Linked DNA regions of Homo sapiens. The protein of the gene in region 1 interacts with the protein of each later gene in a pairwise test. Each region holds a gene or a part of one and is shown on either strand. Other genes may lie near its edges. The genes, in order: DRICH1 and MYOZ2.

Region 1 (3,921 bases):
CCCAGGTTCACGCCATTCTCCTGCCTCAGCCTCCCAAGTAGCTGGGACTACAAGCGCCCACCACCACACCCAGCTAATGTTTTGTATTTTTAGTAGAGACGGGGTTTCACTGTGTGAGCCAGGATGGTCTCGATTTCCTGACCTCGTAATCCGCCCACCTTGCACCTGCTTATTAACTACAGCCATATGTAGCAGAATGACATTTTGGTCAATGACAGAACACATGTATGACAGTGGTCCCATAAGATTATAACAAAGCTGAAAATTTCCTTTTCCCCAGTAAAGTCGTACCTGTTAGAAGGTCGGCGCAGTGCATTACTTACGTGTCTGTGGTGAGGCGGGTGTAAACAAACCTACTGCGCTGCGTCATTACAGTAAAACAACACTTCTTTTTGGAGAACATTTTAAGTAATATGTTATACAAATGACAGACTAACCACAGTGATGGAATTTTTAGAAAGAGATAAAACTAAGAGTCCGTGAGGATTTGGAGAAACGGCTACTCACATATGCTGTTAGAGGAGCATGAATTGGTGTCATCATTTTGGAAAAAGTTTGGCATTATTTATAACAATGAAAGATATGCCCCCTTCTAACAGTCTACTCCACAAAAGTGAGTGCTGGTGTTATTCCAAAACCACTGACAAAAATACTCAAAGCACCATTACTTGAGATAGCCACAATTACATTAAAAATAACCCTGGCCAGGCATGGTGATACATGCCTATAATCCAAGCACTTTGGGAGGCTGAGGCGGGCAGATCGCCTGAGCTGAGGAGTTCCTGACTAGCCTGGCCAACATGGTGAAACCCTGTCTCCACCAAAAATACAAAAAATTAGCCAGGCATGGTGGTGGACACCTGTAGTCCCCACTACTCGGGAGGCTGAGGCACGAGAATGGCGTGAACCCGGGAGGCGGAGCTTGCAGTGAGCCGAGATCGCACCACTGCACTCCAGCCTGGGTGACAGAGCGAGACTCCATCTCAAAAAAAAAAAAAAAGAAAAAAAAAAGTCTAGAACTTAAGTGATGAATAGCAACTTAGAGAACAAAACCAAAGCCAAATTTTTGAAGACAGGAAATAGTGTGATACTATCTTTTGTGGGAAGGAACTTTTGGCTTCCCAAAAAATTAGAGAACTGGGAGAAAGAAGCCACATCTCAGAATCTGTGATTGGGTTGGGCAGTGGAGGCTGGAAAAGTGCTCAAGGTCAAACTTTTCTCCTCCCCTCAAAGGAGACTGGAGTTTTACCAGTGACCCCAGAGTGAATATTCACTCCACCATCCACTCCGGGAGATCCCTTTAAACCAGGAGTGCACAGTGAGGACAGAAACATGAATGTGCACTAACAAGTCCTGAAAGTTCAGAGGGTGATTCTCGATTTCCCCTTGGCACACAGCACAAGGACTGTTTCTCTAGGTTCCAGGAAATGCCTGTGAGAGAGTTGTGTCCCCCAGATTCCCTTCATCACAGATGACACCCAGTGCTTAGGCCTATACCCCTTGTGCCCACTCCCAAGGAGTGTTGACTAATCCAAACCAAAGGCTATGATGTTCCACAGGGCACAAAAGAGCAGGTGCACTGCAAAGATAATCTCTCATGAACGCAGCACCCTCATAGCCCATAGAGACAGTTCTTACCATGATGCCAAGAAACTCTGAAAACAACAAGCCAGACCTCACACATATTTCCATTTTCTTTCTGATTTCATACCCCCTCCTTCAGCCCCTCCTCACAAGCAACAGGGATAACCTGGAGGCTCCTGGGAACCTTTTCCCATTGGGTTTTTGCTGGCACGTAGTTCCCTACCTGGATGAATCTCTTCATCACTTAGACTCTCCAGCGTCAAGTCTTTAGAAACAAAAACACCAGAATAAGTCATTAGAGAGAGTGACTCACCCACTCCTCCTACTTTACTTTAGCTGAAGCTGAGTGATGAGCTAGTCTCCCACTCCATGCTGCTTCATACATGATCCCCTAATCTTTCTTCTGGGTCGACAAACCTTCCTACAGCTTCTCAGGCCAGAGTTCTATACTGGCAGAATCACTTTCACGAGAACCCCAAGCCTCTTTCCCAGCAGGACCCCAGAATCAGGTTTCTATACACTGAAGCTAGCAAGTTTTTTCCCTCAGGAAGTGAGTTATCTCATGGTACATACCACTTTCTATCCGAGCTGTTATCTGCAATTATATAAAAGAAAACATTATGAAAATCAGATTCTGCTGTGCGCTTCACACAGATCTGTTATTCTCTGGACAACGATAAAAAACCAGAAGGCAGTATAGTGATTGAGCCATAGGTCAAAGTCCCCCAAAGACTAGCACAGAGGATAGCTATAGAAAAACAAGACCTCTATTTGTAGAATTTACCTTTAATTTTATATGCAAATGCACAATGCTTAATTCAAGGTGGAAAACTGTTGTTGTGGAAAATGCCTCAGTATTCCAGTTGATAATGGATGCTGTCATTTAAAAGCACCCTAGTGGACCACATATAAGTTGGGAAGACACTCCTATGGAATTCCAGCCCCACAAAGAGAATAGTGTACAGTGTACATAATGTGCATTGCCAGATTTTCATATCAAAATTAATTGAGAAATAAAGGAATCAGGAAAGCAACATTGCTGTAGAAGACAAAAAAAGGGAGGTCTTACGTGGATGTCATCATCATCTTCTTCTTCTTCATCTTTGTGTCTCAGTGAGCATCTTAAAAACAGGCTATCTTCAGAACAAGCTGGAAGGACACAGAGGAAAGATCAGTGCACCGGTGGTTGGTGACTCTGAGTCACTCGGGGAGCTTTGCTGGATGTGGTGTATGGAGGTGGTTGATTAACAAGCATGGACTGAGTTGATGCTGGGCTATTCCCCTGAGTGGAAGAGGGATGGCAAAGAAGGGAAGCATGAAAGACATGAGACATGGAGGCCTTGGCCTTGTACTAGAGGCATCAGGAAGCAACACAAAACAATCACCCCCAAATGTAAGTAAAATGCACACTAAGGGTCAGTGGAAGAGTGCCTTCCTCCCTCTCAAATGTTTTGAAACTCTTCAAAACCAACAGGATTTTCTTAACGTATTCAAGACTGTGTCAGTACACTAGGATCTAATTATGCTGATACTACATTTAGCATCTCTTTTAAAGGATTTATTACTTATTTAAAATCATATTTTATTTTGAAATGGACTCAATTTTACCCAAATTATTCTATTAATGACACTTTCTTTTTCATAGAGATCATTTTAAAAATTCAATATTAAAATGCTACAATTAAAAATAGTCATGATTTCCTCTTTGTAAGTCTTCTTCTGGAACAACTTCTACACACACTTTTGGACAGCAGCTCCTGTGTCACTCTCCCTGAGGAGATTCCCTAAAAATCAGGCTTCATTCAAACAGGCCAAGCCCACAGAGCCTGCTCTAACTATACCAGTGAAGCTGAGAGACGTGACTCTGAACACTTTCTGCCATGAGGATAAGTTTCCAGGTTCAAATATACATTATCTACTGAACTGGGGAAATGTATACCAATACAAATGAACAAATTCATGAAAAAAAGTCCATGAGTATGGGGGTGATTTTTGGTTAGCTATCTTATATAAAAATTATTTTTTTGGTTGAGCACTCTGGCTCAGACCTGTAATCCCAGCAGTTTGGGAGGCTGAGGTGGGTGGATGACCTGAGGTCAGCAGTTCATGACCAGCCTGGCCAACATGGTAAAACCCCGTCTCTACTAAAAATACAAAAAAATTAGCCAGGCATGGCGGTGAGTGCCTGTAATTCCAGCTACTCAGGAGGCTGAGGCAGGAGAATCACTTGAATCTTGGAGGCAGAGGTTGCAGTGAGCCGCGATCACGCCATTGCACTCCAGCCTGGGCAAGAACAGTGAAACTCCATCTCAAAATATACATATATATTTATTTGAT
Region 2 (3,921 bases), on another chromosome or scaffold:
TGTTGTCTTTCTCTGGCTTTGGTATCAGTGTATTATTACCTTAATGAAATGAACTAGGAAGAACTCTCTTCTATTTTGGGGCAGAGATTATGTGACATTGGTGATAATTGTTCTTTAAATATTTGGTAGAATTCTCCAGTGAAATGATTTAAGTCTGAAGCCTTTTGTGGGGTGAGGAGATTTTTAGACTATAAATTGAATTGCCTGAATAGTTATATAATTAATCAAGTACTCATTTCATGTTGGGTGAACTGAGGTAATTTGTGCTTTTTGAGGAACTGGTCAATTTTTTCTAAGTGCTCAAGTTTATGTGAATTTATATGTAGAATTGTTTGTAGTATTAATATTCTTATTATCTGTTTGCTATCTGCAGTGTCTGTAATGATATCTCTGATTTTGTTCCTAATATTGTTAATTTGTGTCTTCTCTATATTTTCCATGTTAATCTTACTAGAGATTTATCAATTTTACTGATCTTTTAAAAACCAGCTCCATACTTCATTGATTTTCTCTGTTGTTTTTCTGTTTTTTATTTCACTGGTTTCTGCTCTTATCTTTACTATTTCTTTCGTTCTGCTTGCTTTGAGTTTATTTTGTTCATCTTTTTTTTTTAGATTTTTTGGGGTAGACACTTATTTATTGATTTGATACTTTTTTCTTTTTTAACTGTGCATTTAGTGCTATAAATATTCCTCTCAGCACTGTGTTGACTGTTTCCCATAAATTTTGATATGCTGTATTTTCAAATTCGTTTAGTTCACTGAATTTTTAATTTCCTTTGAGACTTCCTTTTTGTCCCATGAACTATTTAGAAGTATGTTGATTAGTTTCCAAGTGTTTGGAGATTTTCCTGTTATCATTCTGTTACTAATTTCTAGTTCGGTTTTATTGTGATCAGCGCTAACAATCTGAATAATTTAACCATTTTAATTTGTTGAGGTTTATTTTATAGCCCAGGATATGGTCTATCTTGATATATATTCCACTGGCACTTGAAAGAAATGTGTGTTCTATTGTTGTTGAATAAAATATAAATGTCAATTAAGTCCTATTCGTTGCTAATATTGTAGAATTTTATATTCTTACTGCTCTTCTGCCTAGTTGTTCTATCATCTGCTGAGATGGGGGGATTGAAGTTTCCAACTATAATTGTAGATTTGTCTATTTCTCCTTTTAGTTCTACTTTTTTACTTTAAATATTTTATAGCTCTGTTTTTGGTGCATGTACATTTGGGATTTCTAGGCAATCTTTGTGGATTCGCACTTTAATCATTATATAATGCCCTCCTCTGTTTCTGGTAATCTTTGTTGCTGTGATTTTATCTGATATTAATATCAGGTAATATTTGGTTGATGTTGCTTGATATATATTTTTCCAATCTGTTACTTTCACTTGCTTATAATGTTATCATAGGCAGTGAGTTTCATGTAGGCAGCATCGTCCAACAAACCATAGTTGGTTCACCTTTAATCCAATCTGACATCAATTGATGTATTTAGATTATTTACATTTAATTTATTAATGTCTTAGAGCTTAAGTATGTAATTTTATTTTTAGTTTTCTATTTGTCATCTCTGTTTTACATTCCTGTTTTTTTTTTCTGCCTTCCTGGAGATTACTTCAGAGTTTCATTTTGGTATAGTGTTTTCAAATGTATCTGTTCATATAGCTTTCAGGAGTTGCTCTAAGTATTGCATTATATATGCATAACTTATCACAGTCTACTGATGTTGTCATTTTACCAGTGCAAGTATAGAAAATTTATCTACTTTTGGCCAGGCACGGTGGCTCATGCCTGTAATCCCAGCACTTTGGGAGACCGAGGTGGGCGGATCACTTGAGGTCAGGAGTTCGAGACCAGCCTGGCCAACGTGGAGAAACCCCGTCCCTACTAAAAAAACAAAAATTGGCTGGGTGTGGTGGTGGCAGGCACTTGTAATCCCAGCTACTCGGGAGGCTGAGGCAGGAGAATCACTTGAACCTGGGAGGCGAAGGTTGCAGTGAGCCAAGATCGGGTCACTGCACTCCAGCCTGGGTGACAGAGTAAGACTCTGTCTCAAAAAAAAAAAAAATCTACTTTGATGTCTTTTTATCCTCTCCTGTTTATAAAATAATTGTCTTAAGTATTTCTTCTACATACATTTACATCAGTCAGTATTATAATTTTGGCTTCTACAATAAAATATAATTTAGAAAGCCCAAGAGGAGAAGGGAAGCCTATTGTATATAGCTATATTTCTGCTTACTATATACCTTCTTTATCTCTGATGTTCCAGGCTTCCTTCTTTTATTGTTTCCTTTCTGTTTTAAGAAAACTTCATTTAGTCATTCTTTTAGGGTAGGCTTTCAGGCAACAAATTCTCTTAGTTTTCCTTCATCTGAGGATGTCTCAAGTTCCCCTTTATTTCTTGCAGGATATATTTCACTGGGTATGGGATTCTGGGTTGACAATTCTTTTCTTGCAGCACCTAGAAAAATATGGTACAACTTCCTTTTGGCCTCCATGGTTTCTGATGAGAAATCCACTATTATTCTAGTTATTTTCCCCTTATATAAGTAAGTTGTTTTCCTCTGGTGGCTTTCAATATTTTCTCTTTGTCTTTAGTTTTCAGAAGCTTAATTATAAGTCTTGTTGTGAGTTATTCAGGTTTATTATGTTTAGGGTTCTCTTAGCTTCTCGAATCTGTAAGTTTATATCTCTTGTCAACTTTAGGACATTTTTCAGCCGTGATTTCTTTAAGTACTTTTCCAGCCTCCCCTTATTTTTCCTCTCCTTCTGGAACTTCAATGACATGAATGCTATATCTTTTATTAGAGTCCCATGAATCCCTAAGAATACCTCGTTCATTTGTTTTCAAGTCTATTTTTCTCTGTGTTGGTCTTATTGGGGAAATTCTATTCTAACAGCTAAGTGATTTTTCTCATTTGCCCCCTCTATTTTACTATTGAGCCCATTCACTGAGCTTTTTACTCAGGTTATTATATTTTGAGTTCTAAAATTTTTGTTTTGTTCTTTATATCTTTTATTTCTCGACTGAGATTTTTTTTTTTTTTTTTTTTGCTGCTGCTGATGGAGTCATTGGCAAAAAAAAAAAAAACCTTTCCATTTAAAGAATTTGTTTCAAGTGGTTTCCTAACTGCTTTCTGAAGCATTGTTTTAAATTATGGGTACTTTAAAATATTTGTCAGATAGTTTTAATATCTCAGTCATCCCAGTGTTGGCATTTGATTTTTTTTTTAATTTTTCATTCAGTTTGAGATTTTTCTAGTTCTTTGTATAAGTGATTTTCATAATATATATAAGTGATTTTCAATTTAAGCCTGGACATTTTCACATTATGTTCTGAGATGCTTGCTCTTTAAATAAACCTTCTTTTTCATCTGTTCTTATCTGACACTGCTCCAGCAGGAGTGCCAACTCATTACTGCAGGTGAATGTAGAAGTCTGGGTTCCCTATTTGGCTCCACTGAAACTTGAGGGGAGCCTCTTTGTTATTGCTGGGAGAGGACAGGAGTTCAGACTCCCACGTAGTCTTCACTAAGACTGCGGAGACAAGGAGCTAGTTACTGGCCAAAAGGAATGAAAGTCCCAACTTCCCACTCGGTCTCTCTGACACCACCCTAGTGGGAGTATTGGAGAAACTTGTTACAGCCTCACAGGGTGAAATTCTGGGCTCCCCACAAGATCTTAACGTGGGTGAGAGCGAAGTCAAAGTGTTTTCTGTGGTGGTTGGCTAAAGTAGCGCAGCCATTGTCTAAACATTTTCTGTCTTGCAGAGGCAGCTCCTTTCCTGGTCCTTTAGCTGGAGAGAACAGCCTTTCGTTGGTGCTTTGTCTGTCTGGACCTCTTGGTGTTTCTGGGTTGCCATCATCTTCAGCTTCAAGTCTGAGATTTAGGGGCTAAAAGAACACCCAGAGTA

The links.
Region 2: the proteins of DRICH1 (region 1) and MYOZ2 interact in binary tests that used the Homo sapiens proteins (3 or more experiments, as listed by UniProt).

What each region holds. Positions count from the first base shown.
Region 1 is NC_000022.11:23,611,482-23,615,402, forward strand, and holds part of DRICH1 (aspartate-rich protein 1), read right to left. Parts: intron 2,734-3,921; coding exon 2,654-2,733; intron 2,251-2,653; coding exon of another isoform or gene 2,212-2,250; exon of another isoform or gene 2,180-2,211; coding exon 2,158-2,179; intron 1,850-2,157; coding exon 1,808-1,849; intron 1-1,807.
Region 2 is NC_000004.12:119,145,685-119,149,605, forward strand, and holds part of MYOZ2 (myozenin-2), read left to right. Parts: intron 1-566; exon of another isoform or gene 567-3,921.